5 separate regions of the Homo sapiens genome follow, and all the other regions are linked to region 4. The links come from fine-mapping of genetic effects on gene expression. A gene starts in region 4. Each other region holds a variant in brackets. All regions are shown on one strand. Distances are between the middles of the regions.

What was found. PIP is the estimated chance that this variant, and not a neighbour inherited with it, causes the effect.
Region 1: its variant is fine-mapped to the expression of PDCD6 in tibial nerve (GTEx, PIP above 0.99). The same link has a PIP of 0.9 or more in atrial appendage, breast, coronary artery, esophagus mucosa, pancreas and sigmoid colon.
Region 2: its variant is fine-mapped to the expression of PDCD6 in subcutaneous fat (GTEx, PIP above 0.99). The same link has a PIP of 0.9 or more in lung and monocytes.
Region 3: its variant is fine-mapped to the expression of PDCD6 in whole blood (TOPMed, PIP above 0.99).
Region 5: its variant is fine-mapped to the expression of PDCD6 in whole blood (TOPMed, PIP 0.98).

Annotation. Positions count from the first base shown.
Region 1 is chr5:311,655-316,156 of GRCh38, reverse strand. PDCD6 (programmed cell death 6) reads right to left here. Exons shown (of 6, transcript NM_013232.4): 6 at 1,183-1,740. The coding sequence ends at 1,642. All of the region lies in intron 3 of PDCD6-AHRR (PDCD6-AHRR readthrough (NMD candidate)), which reads right to left. Among named protein-coding and RNA genes, the nearest start is that of AHRR, 7.8 kb to the left of the region's middle. The variant G/TCAGGACACAG (reference allele first, on the strand shown) is at 2,127.
Region 2 is chr5:317,032-321,533 of GRCh38, reverse strand. The region is part of intron 3 of PDCD6-AHRR (PDCD6-AHRR readthrough (NMD candidate)); the gene reads right to left. Among named protein-coding and RNA genes, the nearest start is that of AHRR, 2.4 kb to the left of the region's middle. RefSeq lists silencers at 1-198, 349-608 and an enhancer at 2,718-3,017. The variant C/T (reference allele first, on the strand shown) is at 2,498.
Region 3 is chr5:297,945-302,446 of GRCh38, reverse strand. The region is part of intron 2 of PDCD6 (programmed cell death 6); the gene reads right to left. The region is part of intron 2 of PDCD6-AHRR (PDCD6-AHRR readthrough (NMD candidate)); the gene reads right to left. Among named protein-coding and RNA genes, the nearest start is that of AHRR, 22 kb to the left of the region's middle. RefSeq lists enhancers at 190-695, 696-1,201. The variant A/G (reference allele first, on the strand shown) is at 2,308.
Region 4 is chr5:269,476-273,977 of GRCh38, reverse strand. PDCD6 (programmed cell death 6) reads right to left here and starts at 2,332. Exons shown (of 6, transcript NM_013232.4): 1 at 2,157-2,332; 2 at 1,206-1,267. The coding sequence starts at 2,257. It overlaps PDCD6-DT (PDCD6 divergent transcript), which reads left to right and starts at 2,454. Exons shown (of 2, transcript NR_104613.1): 1 at 2,454-2,633; 2 at 3,771-4,422. It overlaps PDCD6-AHRR (PDCD6-AHRR readthrough (NMD candidate)), which reads right to left and starts at 2,332. Exons shown (of 13, transcript NR_165163.2): 1 at 2,157-2,332; 2 at 1,206-1,267. RefSeq lists a silencer at 2,040-2,249 and enhancers at 2,540-2,629, 3,291-3,983.
Region 5 is chr5:305,645-310,146 of GRCh38, reverse strand. It overlaps PDCD6 (programmed cell death 6), which reads right to left. Exons shown (of 6, transcript NM_013232.4): 4 at 3,387-3,545. The region is part of intron 3 of PDCD6-AHRR (PDCD6-AHRR readthrough (NMD candidate)); the gene reads right to left. Among named protein-coding and RNA genes, the nearest start is that of AHRR, 14 kb to the left of the region's middle. RefSeq lists an enhancer at 2,470-3,354. The variant G/A (reference allele first, on the strand shown) is at 2,621.

The sequences.
Region 1 (4,502 bases), 42 kb before region 4:
CCGCAGCAGCTGCCCTCACCCCAAGCACAGAGACCTCACAGGCCTAAGGCTGAAGGAGGAGTGAGGGCAGCTCCCAGGGTGGGGTGGGTGCAGCTACTGGACACTGAGTCCAGGTGCCCATGAGGCGAGGGAGAAGTCGCTGGGCGCCTGGCCGTGGAGGCCTGGGTGAGGAAGGCCTCATGGAATTGGGAGCTTGCGGCCTGGACAAGGAAGTTGACCTCATGGAGTAGAACTTGGGGTCATCTGCTGCAGAGTCATGGGGGTGTCAAGGTCTAGGGAGGCACCCGGCGTGGATTGCTGGGGATCCTCAGAGACTGCCCTGGGATCCCCATGACTGAGGTCATGAGGGAGCAGCCAGACCCCCAAGCCCACATCCCTCCCCCTCCCATCCCCAGGGAGCCTGGAGTGCCTGCTCCAGAGGGATTCGTATCCAGAGGGCCCCAGGCCAAGTGCAGTTGGGCAGTGGGGGAGGTCTCATCTGGAGCACAGAAGCAGCCCCAGTCCCCACCCCCCACAGCACACCTGCCCAGCTTAAGAGACTGGGGGCTTTTTCCAGGAAACCATGCTCCCTGCCCCTCACCCCTCAACACACCGAGCAGAGGTTTGAACAGATCCCAAGAGACCAAAACGAACAGAGAAAAGTCGTGCACAACTGGGTGGAAGGAGCAGGCTTTCTGAGACCAGAGGCTGCAGCCCCAAAACCAGACGCATCACTGTGGAAGGGAAGCGTCTGGAGAATGAGGCTGGGCCTCGGGAGTGTCAACCCAGGAGGGCCGGCGCTGCACAGTGAGGCAGGGAGGCGGACCGGGCAGCGCTGGCAGTGGACCGAGGTGAGCAGGATGCGCTGGGTGGACAAACGCTGCAGGCCACGTGCAGAGACTGCAGGGCACAGCATGGCTAAATCATTAATGATGGAAATGCACAACCTGCTATACCAAATTGGATTTCTTCATCCAAAAGGAGCAGTCTTATGAAATTTAACCTCCTGAACAGAGGGTGAGACAGTCCCTCTGGATTTTCACAAGCAGAGCTGTGCACGCTGGGCTGGACAATGTTCCAGAAGGTGCCCGGTACCCTGGGAGGTCCCAGGCAAGCCAGAACATCTGACACTGACTGTCTGGAGGACCAGGGCACGGGGCCTGGTTCTTGGACCTATTTGATTTGAAAAGCTGAAGGCAGACCACACGTCTAACATTCCCTTTATTGCTTACGTCACATATTCCAATGAATACAATAAACTCCTTTTTAAAAAAGTAAGGCACATGAAAAGCCTTTTGTGTAAGTTCCATGTTATTTTAAAATTCCTATTGGCTAATAAAAGCATTTGCACTATAGAACCAGAGACATCTAGAAAAGCACATGATAGATTTTTTTGCAAGCAGAATGCCTGAAACATTACATTTACCTCATGGCACAATGAGACAGTCACCAAATCCAATGTCTGCATTAGAACGATACAGCTACTATTACAGTTGCAAAACCATTAATCAGCTTATCCACATATGTACAGCTGGGTCCCCACGTGACAAAATCTAAAGGAAGAACAGCATCTAACTGCACCTGTGCTCCATTCCCTCACAGATAGGAACTGTGACATTTTGGCTCTTTCCATGTTGTGCTGCTCTTCACGAGAGGCCAGGGTCATACGATACTGAAGACCATGGACAGGTACTGTTCGTACGACACCTGAATCCAGCCGTCCTGATCCGTGTCGTAACGTCTGAATATATCCGTCAACCTCTGGGGAGAAAACAGGCATTTAAATCTCGATAGTAAATGGAAGGAGCAAGGTGCACTGGGACAAAGGCATGTAGGGACCCAATTTCAGAAGCACACACGTCTTCTGGGCTCCCTGATGGAGCCCAGCACAGGGAGGCGCAGGTGGGGCTGGAGCTGTTCACACGGACGGTGGGAGTGCGAAGAACGAAGAACACAGGGCTGCGGGGCTGGCTCCGGACATCCAGCCCTGGCTGAGCCCCTGGCTGAGCCCCTGACCCCAGGCTCTGGTCTCCTGAGTCTCCTGGGGGCCTGGGCCCTTCCTTCTCCCCCTGAAGACCGTCCCGTGGAAGCCCTCCACCCTCCAGTGGCTCGCCTCTGCTGTGGGGGCCACCTGGGGCATGTGCAGC[G/TCAGGACACAG]CAGGGGATGCCCAGCCAGATGGGCTTGTGACATCACGAGGGCTTCAGGTTCCTCCAGCCCAGCCCACCCCTCCCTCTCACAGCCGAGGGTCCAGGCCAGGTCAGCGGCAGAGACAGGGTGACCACCTACACTCCTGAAACAGGGATGGTTAAGTAAGTGACACTTCAACCGTAAAATACCCTGAAGATTCAGGCCAGCATGGTGACTCTCGCCTGTGATCCCAGCACTTTGGGGGTCCGAGGCGTGAGGATCGCTTGAGCCTGAGGGTCGAGGCTGCAGTGAGCCGTGTTCGCACCACCACACTCTGGCCTGGGTGATGGAGCAAGGGTCTGTCTCAAGAAAGAAGAAGAAAATGTGGCAGGGAAGACACAGCGTCCTCGCACATCAAGACCTGCAGGAACATGGACAGGGTGTGGTGACTCTCGCCTGGGATCCCAGCTACTCAGGAGGCCAAGGCAGAAGGATCGCTTGAGCCTCAGGGTCAAGGCTGCAGTGAGCTGTTTACACCACCACATTCCAGCTGGGGTGACAAGAGTGAGACTCCATCTCAAAGAAAAAAAAACAACCCTGCAGGAATGCCACAGCCACCACCGGGCTCCTTGACTTGGCAGAGGCTACGGCCTCACCCAACTCCAAAAGCACCGCAATGGATAATGCTGGCTTAAAGAGTAATGGGTAATTTTTCTTTCTATTTTGAATACTTTGTGTTTTTCTAGGGTTTCTAGAAGTGTTCATGTTATTTGTTAGAAAATAATTTTCAAAAAGCCTTTATCCTTTCAGAAAAAGCAGATAAATAAAAACGTTTTTGAGGGAATTTTAACTTGAGGTCTGCAGCTTTCTTTTCTTTCCCATTCCCCATCTGTCTAGCGTTTAGGGTCACTCTCCAAGGGTGGGGACAGCCTGGGAATTGGCTGTCAGGCCCTCCCCACGTGGTCTGGAGCAGGGCCTTGAGGAGGCATCTCCCAGGAGGAGCTACGCTGGCTGCAGATGTGCCTTGGAAGGCGCTGGAGAGGTCGCTGTGAGGCCGCCTGTGTTACTCCAGCTACCGAAAGCTCACACAAGATCAACGTTAACTTATAGAACATAACCTCAAATGAAGATCTGAGCCCTACGGCAATTCAGACACAGAACCTCAAATGAAGATCTGAGCCCTACGGCAATTCAGACACAGAACGAGATTTTACACGGCATCTTTTCCCTTTTTCTTTTCTTTCTTTTTTAAGACAGGGTCTGGCTCTGTCACCCAGGCTGGAGTGCAGTGGTGTGATCTCGGCTCACTGAAACCTCCACCTCCCGGGTTCAAGTGATTCTCCTGCCTCAGCCTCCTGAGTAGCTGGGACTACAGGCATGCGACACCAGGCCCAGCCTACACTTTTTTGAAAGTGTTCAGAGAACATTGTAAAAATGTCATCCAACCTGGCAGGAACCCCGAGAGGCAGGGGCAGGAAAGGGTCCCCAACCGTAGAGTTTTGAAGCTTCCATGTTCACAGACCTGGTTCTCCAACAAATCCCTGAAGAACAGGGACTGATGCATCCATGCCAAATCAGAGGAAACTCACTTTTACAGATCTAGCATCTTAATTATTATACAGAATAAACAATTTGGGAACGTTTTCCAAATTTCCACATTATTTCTAAAAACCCCATGCTGTTCCTATCTCTCACTGAATTCCAAGGCCAACAAGACAGGACCTTGAGGAACCTGGGTAGAGACCTGGATCACCACCTGCAAACAGCAGCAGAGGTCTGTGTGGAGCTCCCAGGCGGGTCCCCTGAGCCCTGCTCTCCATCTCCCGTGGGTCTCAAAGAGAGCCCAGCAGGAGAGACACCACCAAGGAGCTTGCCTTGCAGGTCAGGGTGCATTACCAGCTCCTGCAGACACTGGAGTGCACGGGAAGAGCTCGGAGACCCCACTGAGGGCGGCCTGAGCGACCACAGGCTCCACAGCTGACCTCACACACAGACGGCAGGACACAGTGATGACCACAACAGAAAACGTGCCCATTTTCTCAGAATAAAAGTTTTTGTAAAAATACACCATAGTTGGCCAGGCATGGTGGCTCATGTCTGTAATCCTAGCACTTTGGGAGGCTAAGGTGGGCGGATTACTTGAGGTCAGGAGTTTGAGATCAGCCTGGCCAACATGGCAAAATCCCGTCTCTACTAAAAATACAAAAATTAGCTGGGTGTCACCTGTAATCCCAGCTACTGGGGAGGCTGAGGCAGGAGAATTGCTTAAACCCGGGACGCAGAGGTGGGAGTGAGCCGGGATCGTGCCACTGCACTCCCGTCTGGGTGACAGAGCGAGACTCGGTCTCAAAACAAAACAAAACAAAACAAAAAACAAAAAAAACCACAACACCAGAACATACATG
Region 2 (4,502 bases), 48 kb before region 4:
TCCCAGTGATCCCCCGGAGTCTCCGTGCCCCGAGGCGGGGGTCGCGCGCTGAGCCCCTCCAGGCCCTGCGTTCCCCCTGGGGTCTGTGTGCGCCCAGGGTCCCCCGGTTCTCCCTGCGCCCCCGTCCCCTCCCCAGCGCTCGCGGCCGGCTGTGCTGAGCTGCCGGCCCTAGAGCCGGGCGGTGTAGACCCGAACAGGTAAAGTGAGGAGAGCGTGTGCCCCCTCGCCTGCCCCATGAGGTCGTTTCGAAAATGTAAAAGGAGTCATGGTTTTTGGCGAATTATAGAGAATATTAAGATGCTTTTGGATCCTGAGCTTCCCAGGAAGCGGACGCGCGCCAGGCACGGCAGGGTCGTCCGTGCGACGTTCTTCGTCCTGGGCATTTCAGGGTCCCACGCGGCAGGTGTGCGGCCCTGGGTGCCCCTGCCCCGCCCACCCCGCCGGTCGGCACCCGGGACCGCGCGGCCGAGAGCAGGGTCCTGCCTGCAGGTCCTTAGGGCTCACCCCGCGCCCTCTGCGCGCCCGCCGGCCCCTCCGACCTCGGGCTGCGCCTTCTCCTTCCCCCTCCCGGTGGTCCTTGGCCCCCTCTAGTCCTCCGTCCGGGCGCGCAGGCCCTGGCTGAATTCCCTGTACCCTCAGGGGATCCCTGGGGACACCTCAGCCTGGCCTCGCACCCTGACGTCTCCACAGACCCTGGCCGGCTTCCACCCGTTCTCGCCCTCGCTGGGGCCGGCCATGGAGTCGGTGGTCCCTGGAGTCCGCTCCTCAGCATCCGCGGTCCTCATCCCAGCCGGGGGAACCGCGCCCTCTTCATCCCGCAAGGTCGGTTTTCAGCAACGCGGCCGAGGCTGTCACTGGCGCCCCCAGGTTCTCAGTCAAACCCCGTCTCCCTGACGCCCCCAACCCGCCCCGCGCCTCCTGCTGTTCTCTGAATAAGGCGTGCGGGCCTTGGGGCCTTTGCACTCGCTGTCTGCTGTCGGCTCAGGAAAAGTCTCTTTTCCAGACACAGCTCCCAAGGTGGGGTGGGCGCAGCTGAGAAGCCCACCCTGCCCCCAAGTGGCCACCGCCCCTCCCCGGGTGTAGCTCCTGCAGGGCAGCCCAGAATTGCTGAGTTCTGCCGCTCTGTCCCCAGGGGTCACCAAGTCGGCTCTGCTCACCTCTGGTTCCTGTCGAATAGCAGAGGCTCAAAAATGTGAGCTGAGTAAATGGGCTTTTTTGGGACAGAGTCTTGCTTTGTCACCCAGGCCTGAGAGCAGTGGTGCGATCTCAGTTCACTGCAGCCTCTGCCTCCAGGGCTCAAGCGATTCTCGTGCCTCAGCCTCCCAAGTAGCTGGGATTACAGTCGCGCGCCACCACACCTGGCTAATTTTTTTTTTTTTTTAAGTAGATAGTGGTTTTGCCATCTTGGCCAGGCTGGTCTCGAACTCCTGACCTCAGGTGATCCACCCACCTCGGCTTGCCAAAGTGTTGGGATTACAGGCATGAGCCACTATGCCACTGAGACAGCCAGGAGCCCTGGGTGCACACATTTATTTTTTGATATGGAACAATGTGCAACTATATTGCTGTATTTTTAAAAATCATTAGTTTTATCTTGATCCAATTTTTGTAAAGTGAATTATGCACAGAAAATGTGTAGCTGGATAACTCTGAGGTAACAGGTGAACTTTAATTTCTTTTTACTTTTTGAAAAGTCTACAATTCCTGTAAATTTTTGCAAGAAGCACATAGTACCTTTGTGATCTGTTAAAATAAGAACCTGTGGGTAGAATGTGATGGTGGTGAGCCGCAGTCCCCCTGCATGGGAAGACAGCACCCCCATGTCTCAGGGCAAGCACGGGTTCCCTTCCACCTACCCTGTCCCACCAGAACCAACTGGAATGAGACACTTTGTTACTCTATTTCCTGGGTACAGAAGGAAACTGCTCCTCCTTCCTTCCCACTGCCCTTGACCGGCACAGGCCATCCACGCCCACCTGTCCCCTGTGCTTGTCCCCAAAGTCTCAGGTCTCTGCAGGACCTGGGGCAGCCAGTGGGACTGTGCAGAAAAAGGATGACCCTGCCGTGGGAGCCACTGCCCCTAAAGTCTCAGGGTTTAGCAGGCAGAGCCCCACGTGGAGTCCTGGAGTCTCTGGGCACCCCACCAGCACAATGGGGGATCCCTGAGCCACCTCCCGTTCAGACGGGCTATTGGGCGTGCCTCCCTCCCCACCACGAAGGTCCAGATGCAGCTGACACCCCCAGTCACAGAGTCTCCTTTCTGCCTCTGTGCTGGGGACCCTGTTCAGGAGGTCTCCTCCCTCCAGTCCGGACTTGCTGTCCCCAGTGTCATTGAACCCTCTGGCTCCCACCCACACTCCCAGCAGCTGGAGACACACCCCTTTCTCCTGGGCCACTGGTCCTCTCGGGACTCTGAACCAGAGGCGCTAACACCTGGCAGGGATGGCAGCTGGGGCAGGACTGGAAGCCTCCGAGGACCCACCCCCAGCTCCGGGTA[C/T]CCCCACACTGGAGTCTGGTGCGGTGGGTCCCCAGAGCCATATGAGCTGGACTTGGCCTCCAGTGGACCGCCACATGGCAGGTGCCCACGGCCGGCTGCAGCGCCAGGCCCCTCCCAAACAGGCCCAAGTTGGCTTCACAGAAGTGTGGGGGCAAAGCTGCTCTTCATGGGCCTCCAGGAGTGGTGACTGTGACTGCCCCCTCCTGTCCTCTCCTGGCCACACCTTTGCCTCCCACAGGCAGGCCAGGTCAGGAGCCCCCAGGGCCCTGACCTCAGAGGCAGACAGGGGTGTGCTGACCCCTCGGGCCAGGCCAGGACCCCGCACAGGCGCCTGCGGCTCTCTGGCTCTCTGATGGCGGCTGGGTTTCCCGGGTTCCCCGGGTTCCCCATGACTGCTGTGTCTCCAGCGTTGATGCCTCACAGGGAGCCGCTTGGGCAGCCCTGGTCACGCCTGGGTTCCCTCTCTCTCCCACACCAGTTTCTCCCTGGTCACGCCTGGGTTCCCTCTCCCACACCAGTTTCTCCTGTAGCACAGAGAAGGACCTGGGGAATTTTGTCTTTTGTTAAAAACCACAAGGGAGCTCCCTGCTGGGCACAGTCACGGTGGCGCCCGTCAGAGCTGCTTCCAGGGTGCATTCCATCATTCCAAGTTCACTGTGCTGGAGTCAGCTCTCTGCTTGCCGCAGGGTGAGGGGGGGAGGTGGAGGGTGAGGGGGGAGGTGAAGGATTGGGGGAGGTGCAGGGTTGGGGGGAGATGCAGGGTGGGGGGAGGTAAAGGATGGGGGGAGGTGCAGGGTTGGGGGGAGATGCAGGGTGGGGGGAAATAAAGGATGGGGGGAGGTGCAGGGTTGGGGGGAGATGCAGGGTGGGAGGGAGGTAAAAGATGGGGAGAGGTGCAGGGTAAGGGTGGGAGGTGCAGGGTGCGGGGGGGAGGTGGAGGGTGAGGGGGGAGATGAAGGGAGGGGGGAGGTGAAGGATTGGGGGAGGGAAAGGATGGGGGGAGGTGCCAGGTGAGGAGGGAGGTGAAGGATGTGGGGAGGTGCAGGGTTGGGGGGAGATGCAGGGTTGGGAGTAGGTGGAGGGTGAAGGGGGGAGGTACAGGATGGGGGGAGGTGCAGGGTGAGGGGCAGGTGCAAGGTGAGAGGGGAGTTGAAGGGTTGTTGGGGGAGGTGCAGGGTTGTGGCGGGGAGGTGCAGGGTGGCTGTTGGGGGAGGTGCAGGGTTGTCCGGGGAGGTGTAGGGTTGTGGGGGGAGATCAGGGTAGGGAGGGTGGGGAGGCATGGGCCAGGGGCCCCAGGTGAGGGTGTACGGCGTGCACCTGCACCTCCATGTCTGCACTGATGACTGAGGACCCAGAGCGGGGGGAAGGAGAGGCCCCCAGAGATGGCTGTGCCCCCATGTCCTGCTGTCTTGGGTCTTGGGACCGGGGTCGTGACGCTGAGGGTCCCTGGTGGGTGGTCGTGGCCGCTGGCCTGGCCTGGCCTCCGCGACCCAGCCTCACCACACTGGGCCTGCGCCAGGCACCTGGTCAGCTGTCCACCCCCTCCACCCCCAAACCCAGGCTCTGAAGGGTCACAGGGCACAGCCTGCCTGACAAGGGAGAGCTGAAAGGGCGAAGGCCCGTCTCTCTGTAGTCTTCTCTCTGCGGCTATAAATCCCATGGCTGTGTCGGGCAGGTCCTCCCGGTCAGTCAGCAGCTCCCGAGAGCTCCGTGGTGCAGCCGCACTGCCCCCACGTGGCCCAGGCTGTGTGCAGCTGCCTGGCCCTTGGGGCCTCAGAGTGCAGTGAGGTTTAGCTCAGGGGCTTCCCTCACCCAGGAAGGCGTGGGTGGCCTCCCTGCAGGCGCCTGAGGATGGGGTCTGTGCTGGCAGTGTGGCTGGGCAGGGGGCACGGCAGCCCTGCTTCCCTGCGGGTTGGCACCCCCTCCACAAGGAATCCACCACAACTCGTGAGCTCACTGCCCTCCAGGGACCCCCAGTTTTGTATCAGTGACTCCGGCCAGGAGA
Region 3 (4,502 bases), 28 kb before region 4:
CTGTGCTCTCCCCACAAAGGCAGGTGCACCTGAACCTGAGGCATACACACAGAGCAGCACTCCACGACCCACCCTCCAGCAGTTATGCAGGGAAGCTGTGCCCTTCCCACAAAGGCAGGTGCACCTGAACCTGAGGCCCACACACACAGCAGCACTCGATGACCCGCCCTCCAGCAGTTATGCAGGGAAGCTGTGCTCTTACCACAAAGGCAGGTGCACCTGAACCCGAGGCATACACACACACACACACACACAGCAGCACTCCACGACCCGCCCTCCAGCAGTTATGCAGGGAAGCTGTGCTATTCCCACAAAGGCAGGTGCACCTGAACCCAAGGCACACACACACACACACACACACACACACACACACACAGAGCAGCACTCAATGATCCGCCCTCCAGCAGTTATGCAGGGAAGCTGTGCTCTTCCCACAAAGGCAGGTGCACCTGAACCCGAGGCATACACACACAGCAGCACTCGATGACCCGCCCTCCAGCAGTTATGCAGGGAAGCTGTGCTCTTCCCACAAAGGCAGGTGCACCTGAACCTGAGGCATACACACACAGCAGCACTGGACGACCCACCCTCCAGCAGTTATGCAGAGAAGCTGTGCTCTTCCCACAAAGGCAGGTGCACCTGAACCCGAGGCATACACACAGAGCAGCACTCCACGACCCACCCTCCAGCAGTTATGCAGGGAAGCTGTGCTCTCCCCACAAAGGCAGGTGCACCTGAACCTGAGGCCCACACACACAGCAGCACTCGACGACCCACCCTCCAGCAGTTATGCAGGGAAGCTGTGCTCTCCCCACAAAGGCAGGTGCACCTGAACCTGAGGCATACACACACAGCAGCACTCGACGAGCATCTGTTAAGCTGAATAGAGTGATAATCTGCAGGATTACCTTTCTGTAGGCTTTACAAGTATCTGAAAGGAGAGTAGACAGGTATATGTATATAGAGGTATTCAGAAAGGTCGGAATTACTGAAAACTAGTGTTACAAAAAGCAAAGATAGGCTACAGAAAACCCACAAGGCAAAGAAAGAGGAAAACTCTAAACACCAAGGAGCATCCCTGCCTCACCCAATTCCATCTGGTCTCCCCCGTTCTTCACCGCTGTGTGCGGCAACCTAGTGTCTGCACACAAGGGTGACCTGCTCTGACCCAGCGCTGACAGAAGCCCCAGGAGCCAAAGCCCCTGGAAGCCTCCTGGGCAATCAATCCTCTGTCTTCATGCCATGAGCTTCTTCTCCTCTGTCTTCTGCGTCCGTGGCCCTGGATTGACTGTGTGGAGCTGGATGAGACCTAAGTCCTCAAGTGAAGGCTGCACTGTGACGTGTCCTGATCATAAGCAGAAGCTTCTCTGGGCCATCTCAGCAAATAACACGGTCAAACAAGTTTTAAACCAAAGCAACACAGGTTAAAACACAAGCGAGATGTTAACGCCGCAGCGCAGGCACAGGGAGGCTCAGGTGCCATCTGGACGGGCACGCATGGAGTGTGCCGTGATGGTGCATTCCTGAGAGCTGGGGCCCAGGAGGAACCGGACGGCCATACTGGGGTCTTCTGGAGTATTCTAAGGATTGCCCAGGAGAGCAGAGGTTGTCCCGGGATTAATCAAGGATGAGAGAGGCAGCCACCCCACTAGAAAGGGCCGCTGAGGGATGGACACTCCTGATGTCTCCACTCGCCTTCCTTGCCAACCACAGCGGGGTCTGGCTTCTCCACAGAAACCAAGAGAGAACCACCACAAGGCCTAACGGCCCGTAACGAGCTGAAGCACCGTGGCGCACAGGCATTTCACGCCTCGGTTACATTAGGTGCTAGACATACCTGGGCAACCGCCTGAAAACCTAAGTAGATGCTGTGCTTTGCCCAAGGCCATGGAGTCACTTGTCACCAAATCCCAAGCCTTCCCCTGAAGCCCTGCCAAGGTGAGTTTCTGGTGAAAGCACGAAAGACTGCATGGGGGTCCCTGAGACCACCCTCCAACTTGAAAGGGTACAGAGTAAACCAGCCAAGGGAAAGGGCTGCCAGGGAAGCCAGGCGCTTCCAGAGTCCCTCCCAGCGGAGTCACACAGGGTGCGCCGGATTCCTCCAGCAAGAAGCTGGGACAGCTAGTGCCGTGGTGCGGACCAGGGAGGCTCTCCTGAACCTGGGGGTCAGTCAGGGAAGTTCCAGCCACCCACAGCGAAAGCAGGTGTTTGCCATCCATCACCTTGTTGGTCAACTACCCAGGCAAAGTAGTGCAACATGGCTCAAGTCTCTCTCATCAGTCAGAACACTGCAGGAGCTCAGCTCCC[A/G]GGAGCCAGCCAAGGGCCCCTCCTGGGAACGTGCAGGGTTTGAGCAATCCACACCCGCTGAGTTAACCCCTTCCCACATAGGCAGATCAAATCTGCTCCATCACCAGGGGCAATAAATACCATCACCCACATCCCTGGGCCCATGTGAGAGAAGGACAGTGATGGGACTGGACATGTACTTTACAGGGCACTGTACTGCTTCTGAGGTCTGATTTTTCTCAGTTCTCTTTAATATGTGATCTCCAAGAGAGCCTCAACTGTATTTGATAAAAAAATAAAAAAAAAAATACCAGCTGGGCGCGGTGGCTGGCGCCTGTAATCCCAGCACTTTGGGAGGCCAAGGCGGGCGGATCACCAGGTGAGGAGATCGAGACCATCCTGGCTAATATGGTGAAACCCCATCTCTACTAAAAATACAAAAAATTAGCCAGGCATGGCGGCGTGTGCCTGTAGTCCCAGCTACTCGGGGGGCTGAGGCAGGAGAATGGCGTGAACCCGGGAGGTGGAGCTTGCAGTGAGCTGAGATTGCACCACTGGACTCCAGCCTGGGCGACAAAGTGAGACTCTGTCTTAAAGAAAAAAAAAAAACCTTCAAAAGAACGTAAGAATTATTTCTTAAAAGTACAGCTTCAGAAGCACAGAGACTTGAAAAAAGTTAATTTCTTATAATTCCAAGATGTTTTGGGAACGAGAGATCAGCACAGAAATTGGGCTAGGAGGATAATGGATGAAACCGATGGGCTGATCACGGTTCCAGCATGGTCTCGCCAGGGAGGTGACGGGGTTTGAGTGCTGCAGTGCAGGACTGGGGATGCCACAGGAACGGGTGCCCCAGGTAGGGCGTCATCCAGGAAGGATGAGAAACCTGAGAACAGCTGGGGGGGAACAGCTGGGGGGGAGCAGCGGAGGGGGAACAGCTGGGGGGAGCAGCTGGGGGGAACAGCTTGTGGGGAGCAACTGGGTGAGAACAGCTGGGGGGAGCAGTTGGGGGGGAGCAGCTGGGTGAGAGCAGCTGGGGGGGAGCAGCTGGGGGGGAGCAGCTGGGGGGGAGCAGCTGGGTGAGAACAGCTGGGGGGGAGCAGCTGGGGGGAGCAGCTGGGGGGAGCGGCTGGGGGGGAGCAGCTGGGGAGGAGCAGCTAGTGGGGAGCAGCTGGGTGGGAGTAGCTGGGGGGAGCAGCTAGTGGGGAGCAGCTGGGTGGGAGTAGCTGAGGGGGAGCAGCTGGGGGGAACAGCTGGGTGAGAGCAGCTGGGTGAGAACAGCTGAGTGGGAGCAGCTGGGGGAGCAGCTGGGGGGAGCAGCTGCGGGGGAGCAGCTGGGGGGGAGCAGCTAGGGGGGAGCAGCTGGGGGAGCAGCTGGGGGGGAGCAGCTGGGGGGGAGCAGTTGGGGGTGAGCAGCTGGGGGGAGCAGCTGGGTGGGAGCAGCTGGGTGGGAGCAGCTGAGTGGGAGCAGCTGAGTGGGAGCAGCTGAGTGGGAGCAGCTGAGTGGGAGCAGCTGGGGGGAGCAGCTGGGTGGGGGCAGGGTCCGCTGGCTGCACGGGGGTGGTGAGAGGAGCCCTTGAGGGCCTGAGAGCAGCGAGGCCGGGAGGAACCCTAATCCCTCATCTGCACATGACATGGGGCCTGCCGGAGCCCCACAGAGCTTGGAACGGAGCTGGGGAGGAGAGTTTGCCAGGCCTCCCGTCCCCTCCTTCTTCCCACTGGGATTGCTCTGCAGGAAGAAGAACCCATCATGTCCTTGTAAATGTGCTGGGGAGAGAACCCCTGACAGTGCCTGGTGCTCACTCCTGGGGAGCCACTGTCTCGGGTGGTCCTGGTACCGTGAAGTTTCTGGGCTCAGGTCCATGGCACCTGGAAAATGTGTTTAAGTGAAATGATCTTCAAAGCCCAAGAGGAAATGTTCCAGGCACCCCTCAGAGACCCCATGAGGCAGGAAGGACAGTGGGGCTATGGGGGCCCCCAGCTTCTCCAGCTCGACCCGTGCCTGGGAATTACCCCTGAAATCATGAGCAGAGCTGGATGCTGGGTCAGTTCTGTGTGCCTGGAAATTACTCCCTGATATCGATAGCAGAGCTGGACGCTGTGGTCTGTGGGACTCTACCCTTAATGGCTTCATTTATTTACGTGGATCTAACCTTATATTTATCTATGTAAAGAAATAAATTTGTCATTTGTTAGATTCACCTGTGCTTGAGATC
Region 4 (4,502 bases):
CCGAGTAAAAACGAACTGAGATGCAAATAAAAAAAAAAAAAACGAGGATTTAAGAATAATGAAAAGAGAAAAACCAAGAAAGCACAATCACTAGTGTAGAGATAACAGCATTTCTGAATTCCCTGAAAACAATCTATAGAAATGCATGTGAAATAATACACCAGCATCTGTGGCCCACACGCCACATATTAGGAACTGATGTCGTAATATAAGGTAAAAATGTTACTCTGAAAACACAAATCCTCACAAATCATTAGGCAGTAAGGCTGAATCCAGCACCCCCCCACCCACAGCGCAGTGAGGCAGTGTCTAGCAGCCGTAGTGCTCCCCGCGCCCCAGTTCAGTCTCTGGCAACTTCAGATACTTCCCACTAATAACAAGAAGCCTTTCAACATTTTCACAACATCTCAAAACTGACCCCTTTTCTAGCTTAAATGGCACGGATCTGGAAAAGCAAACTATACACAGAATCAGAAAAGATGACTGCCCCTGAGGGATTACAGAAAAAGTGGCAGTCAGGTTTCAATGAAGTAAAATGTGTCCAATGATAGCGGAGGGGAGGGGGATCAACTGAGCTGAAACTGGCAAGAACGTAATTCCAGGGAGCTCACAACACGCAAGGACCCGGATTTCCCGCTGCCTGAACGCCCAGTATTCGCACACTGATAAGAACACCTCCCCATAATCCCCTGGCCAGCGCCTCCAACACCCCCAATCCTTTCCCCAGGAACCCAGTCCCAGTTTCTGCAGTTCCTGTAACAGCCACATTCCCATACAAGGGCTGCCTGAGCTCCCCAAGCCCTCCAACAATCACCCCCCAGTGCCCTCGAAGGTCTATTCAGAGAAGTCACCAAGATGCAGTCACCCAGGAAATTCAAGGACCTCCAACTTACCAAAAGGCTTTCGGCTGTACAGAGCTAAGCTTCCTATTCCCCTCCTAAACCTACAATCTAGTTTTCATTTCTCAAGAAGCCTTTCCCTGTGCTCACGCACGCAGTTGTTAGCTGGCTCGGTGAGGCACTCCAAGCAGTAACAGCGGTAGCCACAAAATAAACCAGAAGCATCTCCACTACGAAGCAGTAATAACAATTTGTCCTAATGATTCCTTTGTCCTTGGAAAAACAACTTCAGAAAGTTATCCACTGTGAACAGGGCAGGCTCGCGGCTTCTTGGTCCGGAGACCCAGTTCCCACTGGCCCACTCACCGTTGGAGAGAGCTTGCTGAAGCTCGGTGTCTGATATCACTCCACTCCTGTCTTTATCGACCCTATAACATCAAGAAGACCAAATAAGCTGGCGATCGAAAGTTCAGGAAAAGCAAAACAAACGTCTTCTGTCAACCCTGCACCGACTCTGGAAGGCTCCCTCCTGGAACCTCCGCCTCTCCCGTCCCGCTGAGGAGTACAGCGGAATCAAGGAAGTGCCCCAGGAGCCGACGTCCAGTGTGGTCTTCCCCTAAGAGGACAATCATCTTCACCTCAATCCTTCCCTTCCTTCCTCTCCTGGCCTGTCTGAATTCCCATTTGCACCCGTTTCCCTTTTTCACAGACAAGACAAGATTCCCTCAGATAACTAAGCCATTCCCTGGCCATCAGTCACTACAGTTTCGGACATTCGGTGGAAAAGCGACCAGGGACAGAAGGCGCCGCCATAAAGGTCACCTGGCCCGAGCAGACGCCAGGTCGCTGCTTCTTCCTTGGCTGCTGACATTTTAACAGCGCCCAGGCAGTCTGTTTCCGCTTTCCCCAAACAAGCACCCTGGAGACCCTCCACCTGGCGGCTCTTGAGGCGAGAAAAAGGGCCTAGCCCAGGAGCCGGTGGCCGCGACCTCGGGTCTGCAGTGGCGCACTCTGCATCTTGGGAAGGGCCCGACGCACAGGACAGGGACCGGGCAGGAGGCAGGGGCGGCCCCAGGAGACCGGGCAGCGGACGGGGGAGACCGCGGGGGACCCGCCAGGGGACGGGGGCGGCCGCGTCGGCTGGGGCAGGGGTCGGGGGCGGCGGCAGGGGACGGGAGGGGGCCGCGGGGGACCCGACAGGGGACGGAGGAGGCCGCAGTAGAACCGGCAGGGAACGGGGTTGGTCGGGGGAGTCGGGACAGGGGTCGGGGCCGCCGCGGCGGAGGCGGGAGGTGCCCGGGCGGTGCCAGGCCGCACCTCTGGAAAACGTTCCACAGGAAGCTCTGGTCCGGCAGCGCCGCGCCTGCAGCAGGCCCAGGGCCGGCCCCAGGGCCGGGGCGGTAAGAGTAGGCGGCCATGGGCCAAGGCACGCGGCTGGGCTGAGGCGCCTGCAGCGACGAGAGACCTCTCAGGCCGACTCCGCTTCCGCCTCTGCCGGGGGCAGGGCCTGGCATTATCACCACTTCCGGGGGCGCAGGAAATGCGTGGTCTCCGGGATGGTCACGGGGTCCCGCGCAGCCAATCCCCTCGCAGCTAAGTTGCCAGGCAACGCCCTGGCGCCTGCGGGGAGGGCGGGGTCTGGGCGCCTGGAGGAAGCCAGAGCTTTGGCGCAGGCCGCCTGCGCGCTGTGCCAGGAAAGCGCTTGGAGAAAATGTCCGGCCCCGCGACCTGGGACAGGAAGTGATGGAGCACGGACTTAGTTTGCCTTTCAGTTCTTGTATAAATAGTTTTGAGGTGAATGTGATTTGCTAACAGTCGGAAACTCTGGGCGGGGCGCGGTAGCTCACACCTGTGATCCCTGCCCTTTGGGAGGCGGAGGCGGGCGGAGCTCTTGAGCCCAGCAGTTCGGACCAGCCTGGGCAGCATGGATAGACCCCATCCCTACAAAAATTACAAAAAGTAGTCGGGCGTGGTGGGCTCCTGTGGTCCCATCTACTCCGTGGGCTGAGGCGGGAGGATTGCCTGAGCCCGGGAGGTCAAGGCCGCAGGGAGCCGAGCTCACTGCACTACAGGGGTGGACAGCGAGACTCTGCCAAAAAAAAAAAAAAAAAAAAGAAAGCAAAAGCAGGCCGGGCGCGGTGGCTCACGCCTGTAATCCCAGCACTTTGGGAGGCCAAGGCCAGTGGATTACCTGAAGTCGGGAGTTCGAGACCAGCCTTGGCCAATTGGGAGACACCCCGTATCTACTAAAAATACAAAACTAACCGGGCGTGATGGTGCACACCTGTAATCCCAGCTACTCGGGAGGCTGAGGCAGGAGAATTGCTTGAAACCGGGAGGAGGAGGTTGCAGTGATCCGAGATCGGGCCATTGCACTCCAGGCCTGGGCAACAAGTGCAAAACTCTGTCTCAAAAAAAAAAAAAAAAAAAAGTCAAAACACAATTCGGGTGGGAAAGGCAGTGTGCAGCATTCTCGGTTGTCTGTTCCGCCCCCAAAAGCTTCCCTCCTTTAGGTTTAACCTGCGCCCCCGTGCTCTGCATCAGCGCGGCCCCTGACCCCGTGCAGCTGGAAACACTGCTGGGCCCCTTCACACCCCTGCCTGCTGGGCCCCTTCACACCCCGGTGGTGGTGCAGCCCTGCCTCCCGCAAGACAGCACTGCCTTCGTGCTGGACACAGTTCTAAGGTGGAGCCTGGAGTGCCTGTAGCACAAATCCCGGAATTGGGAAGTGCCCAGCTTTGGGCCACTGTGATCCCTGGGTCTTTCCCACGCGCGTAGTCTCGTGCCGCCTTCCACCCCGGTCCTGTGTCCTGTGCCCCGGTTCAGAATACTACAATTATTCTCATTATTTCATGGGGTTATTTCAGCTTTTCAGTTTCTTCAGTGCCTCATTCCATGAATGCTAACTTTTTTCATCCTCATACTTCCTAGGGTTGTCTCTGAATTTTCACTCAGTTGTCTACCAAGATGTTGAATGGACCCAGAGCCAAGGACGTGGTCTTTTATCAGTGGCACCTGAGACTTTCTTCCCTGTGGACGCAAATCCATTATTCAGCACTCTGGGCACAGCTACAGATCTGATCAGCTATCCATTCTCCAAACTATCTCATCCTCTGTCCCATTTTTCTGTCTCTCTTGTCCACAAGGCATATACCTGAGAGTTTTCAAATTCCTCAGAGAAATTTAGATATTCTGTGGCTTTGGCATTCACCTAATGTGTTAATCTACAAACCTTTTTTACAGTGTGGATTTTTTTTCATGATGTGAATTCAAGTGGTTTCTAATGGTCTCTTCATAAAGTTGTAAACCAAAAGTAAAATTCTAAGGCCCCACCCCATCTGAATGGACCCCTTCTCTGGGCCAGGGCACTCCAAATTAACCTGAAAACCGTTCAGGCCACGACATGAAGTGGGGGCGGGTGGGACATGGCTGACTATGCCCTCCTCCCTTTTGGAATTCAGGGAAAGCCAACACAGACCTTAAGTCTAATGAGAAACACCATCTATTCTCTCTGAAGCCTGCTACCCCAAGGCTTCTTCTGCTGATAAAACTTTGGTCTCCACAACCTCTTATAACCCAGACATTCCTTTCTATTGGTAATAACTCTCAACTAATTGCCAATCAGAACATTTTTAAATCTACCTATAACCCAGAAGCCCCCAC
Region 5 (4,502 bases), 36 kb before region 4:
TCCCACCTCCTCACTCCCTGCACCAGGGCTGAGCCCAGCCTGCTGAGAACAGAGCCTGGGACAGGCCCACAGGGACATTGCCTGTCTGGGAGTGCATGGGGGACAGAGGCCATCACTGGTGTGCACGGGGACGGCGGCCATCACTGGGGTGCACGGGCACGGCGGCCATCACTGGTGTGCACGGGGACGGCGGCCATCACTGGGGTGCACGGGGACGGCGGCCATCACTGGGGTGCACGGGGACGGCGGCCATCACTGGGGTGCACGGGGACGGCGGCCATCACTGGGGTGCACGGGGACGGCGGCCATCACTGGGGTGCACGGGGACGGCGGCCATCACTGGGGTGCACGGGGACGGCGGCCATCACTGGGGTGCACGGGGACGGCGGCCATCACTGGGGTGCACGGGGACGGCGGCCATCACTGGGGTGCACGGGGACGGCGGCCCTCACTGGGGTGCACGGGGACGGCGGCCCTCACTGGTGTGCACGGGGACGGCGGCCCTCACTGGTGTGCACGGGGACGGCGGCCATCACTGGGGTGCACGGGGACGGCGGCCATCACTGGGGTGCACGGGGACAGAGGTCATTACTGGTCTCCTGCCAAGGCTGGGGAAGGACAGAGGAGATGCTGACAGAGGCAGAGGAACTCCAGTCTGCACAGACAACAGGAGCAACCCCACTGCCTCTGGAATTAACTTCCAGTTTCCTTGGTCATCAGTAATAGTGAAGGGAAAAGAAAGGCAAAGTCAGACAGCAAAATGAGGGATGAACAAACGAACTACAAAAAGAATGTTTATCTGAGAAGCCAAAATCCAGAAGCAACTGTTTCTGAGTTTCTGTTCATGAAAGTCAGTCCACATGAGGCCACCAGCGTCCCTGGGCCCACCCCTGACACACCCCTTGCCAAGGTCTTTCTCCTCTTTCGGACTCTCTGAAATGCTGTGAACGAGCCAAGCGGAGCATGACCTCCTCAGAAATCACCTCTTCCACCTCGGAGGACAAACCAGCTGCCCCCACTCAACAGGCTGAGGCTCCCTGGGGCTCCCCCCAGCTCTTGGGGGCCTGGTACAGTGGCAAAGGACCACAGCGGAGGAACTGTTCTCCGCCCGACTGCCTTTGTCAGACACGCACTGCCCACCAGAGGGGAGAATCTCACCGGCTGTTTACAGCAACCTAAACGGCACGTGCTGAGTCAGCTGTCCCGGTGCCGGGTGGTGAGTGCTGGAATGTGAGCACGCCTTCCTCACCTTTTCACTTCAGGTCTCTGAGCATGGCACACAGTTGATGTTAACAATAAAGGCTTAAAAAAACGAATCGGTGGATTATGAAATCCACCATGTGGCCCCATCAGAGACACCCGGGGAGAAATCTCGCAGGCTTCACCACCCTGGTGATTCCCTCCTGCTGGCCACCAAGCTCCAGTGCAGCCTCCCTGCTTCATCTGAGAGCAGAACACTTGTTCACAGGGGCCAAGACAAAAGAAGAATTTTTGCTTCTGAGGCCAACTTCCTAACAGTTACTATGGGAAATCTTTCAAAATCATCAAAATACAAAAAGGATGACAATGCCCCTTTCCAAGGAAGACGTGGGAGATGGCCCTGGAGATCAAGAACCAAACGCAGGAGGAAACTCGTGAGGGTAACCAGAGAAAATGCTGCGATGGGATGCCGCACCCCAGGAAAAACCTGGAAGTCAGGAAGGGTTCTGCCGCTGCACAACACAAGCAGGCCTGCCCACTCCAGGGCGGGAGGAAGGCTGCGTGACCGGCCGTGCCTCCCGCCACAGCTAAGCACAGTTTTCTGGGAAGTCCTTGGCCAGACCAGGACGAAGAGGGCCTCAGAGACCAGGGAGCACTGTCCACAGCAACTTCCACTGCACATTCTGAGGACCGATGGTCACTGGCATGGACAAAGGGAGCTCCAGGGCCTGACAAGGTTAGGAAAAGATGTCCGTGGCGCCAGAGGTCGCTTATCTAAAAATAACTTCAGGCCGGTCCTGAAGTCCACGTGGCCCTGGCCGCAATCGGCAGCACTGGCCTCCCTGGCCCCCAGGACCACTCTCTGTGGAGGGTGGCATCCTTCCCTCCCAGCCCTTCCGTACCTGCCCCAGGGAAGAGGAGCCGGCCAGCGTTCCCTCCAGTTCCCCCACCCAAGGGCACAGCAAGGTCAGCTGCATTCCAAGTACCAATTCAGAGCCATCCAGCCCAAATCCTGGCTCGCAGCTGGTCAGCTCAGAACTGCTTCTTGAGGAGACCCAGTGTCCACCCCCGGCCCTGTGGACAAGCTCGTAAGGTGAGAAAGAAAAGAGAAAGAAAGGCAGCCACAAAGTGCATGCTGGGAGGAAACACGAGGAGAGGCGACGTGCTTAGATAAGTGAGACTCCAGGGATCTCGGAGGTACTCAAGTAGAATCGAATTTTCCTCACTGTTTCTAAGGAGCCTTTTAAGCAAATCACGGAAGCGGCTTCACAACAGGGGCCAGATGAGATCCGCATGGATTAGAATCTCGGTGCAGCCACCAACAGCCTCAGGCTGGCCCCAAACATGCCCGTTGTTCCTCTGTAAATAAAACCCCTGCTTCCTCTCAGCCCTGAGAGCAGCACGGGAAGCCCCGTGGACA[G/A]GCCCTATGGACGCACTCTGGACAGGCACTGTGAACACTCCTAGACCCACGGCACACCGTCACATGTGTGTGTGCACACGCGTCAAGCACACACACGCTGAGCGCACCTGAGAATGGGCACGCGTTCTGCCTAACGCCCCTTCTGAGGCGCACGGCACACGTGTGCACACACACGCCGAGCACACACACGCCGAGCACACCTGAGAATGGGCACGCGTTCTGCCTAACGCCCCTTCTGAGGCGCACGGCACACGTGTGCACACACACGCCGAGCACACACACGCCGAGCACACACACGCCGAGCACACCTGAGAATGGGCACGCGTTCTGCCTAACGCCCCTTCTGAGGCGCACGGTTTGGACCTGGTGACTGACAGCTGTTTCTTAGGTGACTGTTGCCTTTTCAACGTGCTTTGATCTATCATGAAATATAAGCTGCCCTGCCCCACGGTATTTTCATGGATCCACTTTTAAATGATTTCAAAAGCCACATTCTCAGTTTTGCTCACGACATCATTCCACTTCAGAAAAGATGAACGGCTTGCATAGCCCTTATCTCATTTTGGATAAAAACCTGAATAAACGTATCCATGTCGAGGATCGCCTTCCGACATGAGCAATATCAAATATGAACCTGCATGACGTCAACAAAAACTTTACGTAGCCTGGTTAGACAATCAGTTAAGTCCAACAAGGTTTAAAGAACTTCAACGGCTCCAAGGTTCCAAAATGAAACACGCTACACAAGCCAGAGTGAGTGAGTTACCGAAACCTGAGAGGGCCTGCTTCAGCTCGTTCTTATCGATCATCCCGGAGTTGTCCCGGTCGTACGTGCGGAAGACGTTCTGCCAGTCCGTGATGTACTTCCACACACCCGTGAACTCGCTGAAGTTCACGCCGGCCTTGTTCTCACGGTCAAACATGGCTGAGACAGAGAGGAACGGTCAAGCAGCAAAAGATCAGTTGCAGCAAACTCACTTGAGGCTTCCCACCAGACCTCAGCCCTCAGAGCCTGGCGGGGCCCCACTGCTGACCACTAACCAGGGACTGGGCAATGCATGCCTGTCTGTGAATGGGGTGAAATCCCTTAAAGTCTTGTCACCTTCGCCCTGGGTGGGGGTGTGGGGGATTGTCCCCCAGCCCTGACCCCCTAAGTCCCAGGAGAAGGTGCACTTGCAGCTGTGAGGCAGGCCGTGCAATGGGATGTGTGAGGAAATCCAGCCGCAGCCACGACAGAAAGAAGAGCAGAGCTTCACACTCAGCTTCCGAGGCACGGGGAAGGTAAGTGGCCCCAGCTCCCCTGGCTCCTGGGTCTCGGCCTAGAACGCGAATCTAATTCCCAGAGCTGACCCTCTGACTCTCCAGGGCCCACAGCACTGGTGGAGTCTTGGAACAGCCCTGTCAGGAAAACCTGCTTTAATTAGAAACAGACCCTCGCCTATGTCCTATTTGCTTTCAGTCTAACTCCAGGTCCAAATACAAAAGAATCTATAACTACCTTTATATGTAGTTGCAATATGGCTAAAAAACATAGAAAAATTCAGTGTGAATTACTGCTGCAGAGAAAATGATAAATCACGTGGTCTCTTTTCAAGAACAGAGGTTAATACAGGACTGCAATAAGACTACTCCTGGTTTGATCAGAAATATGTTACAATTAAATGAAAATCCACAGGATGAAAAATCATGTGAGAAACAGCATCGATGTTTCTTCCCAACAGTCCACAACCCTGTGTGCAACCAGTGGCTGTTTTTCACACAACCGTTCCACGACGTGCACCGTTCCACGACGTGTGTGGTGTGTGGACCAGGGGCTGTTTTTCATACGACCATTCCACGATGTGTGCAGTGTGTGTGGACGATGCTGTTGCGTGCAGGACCC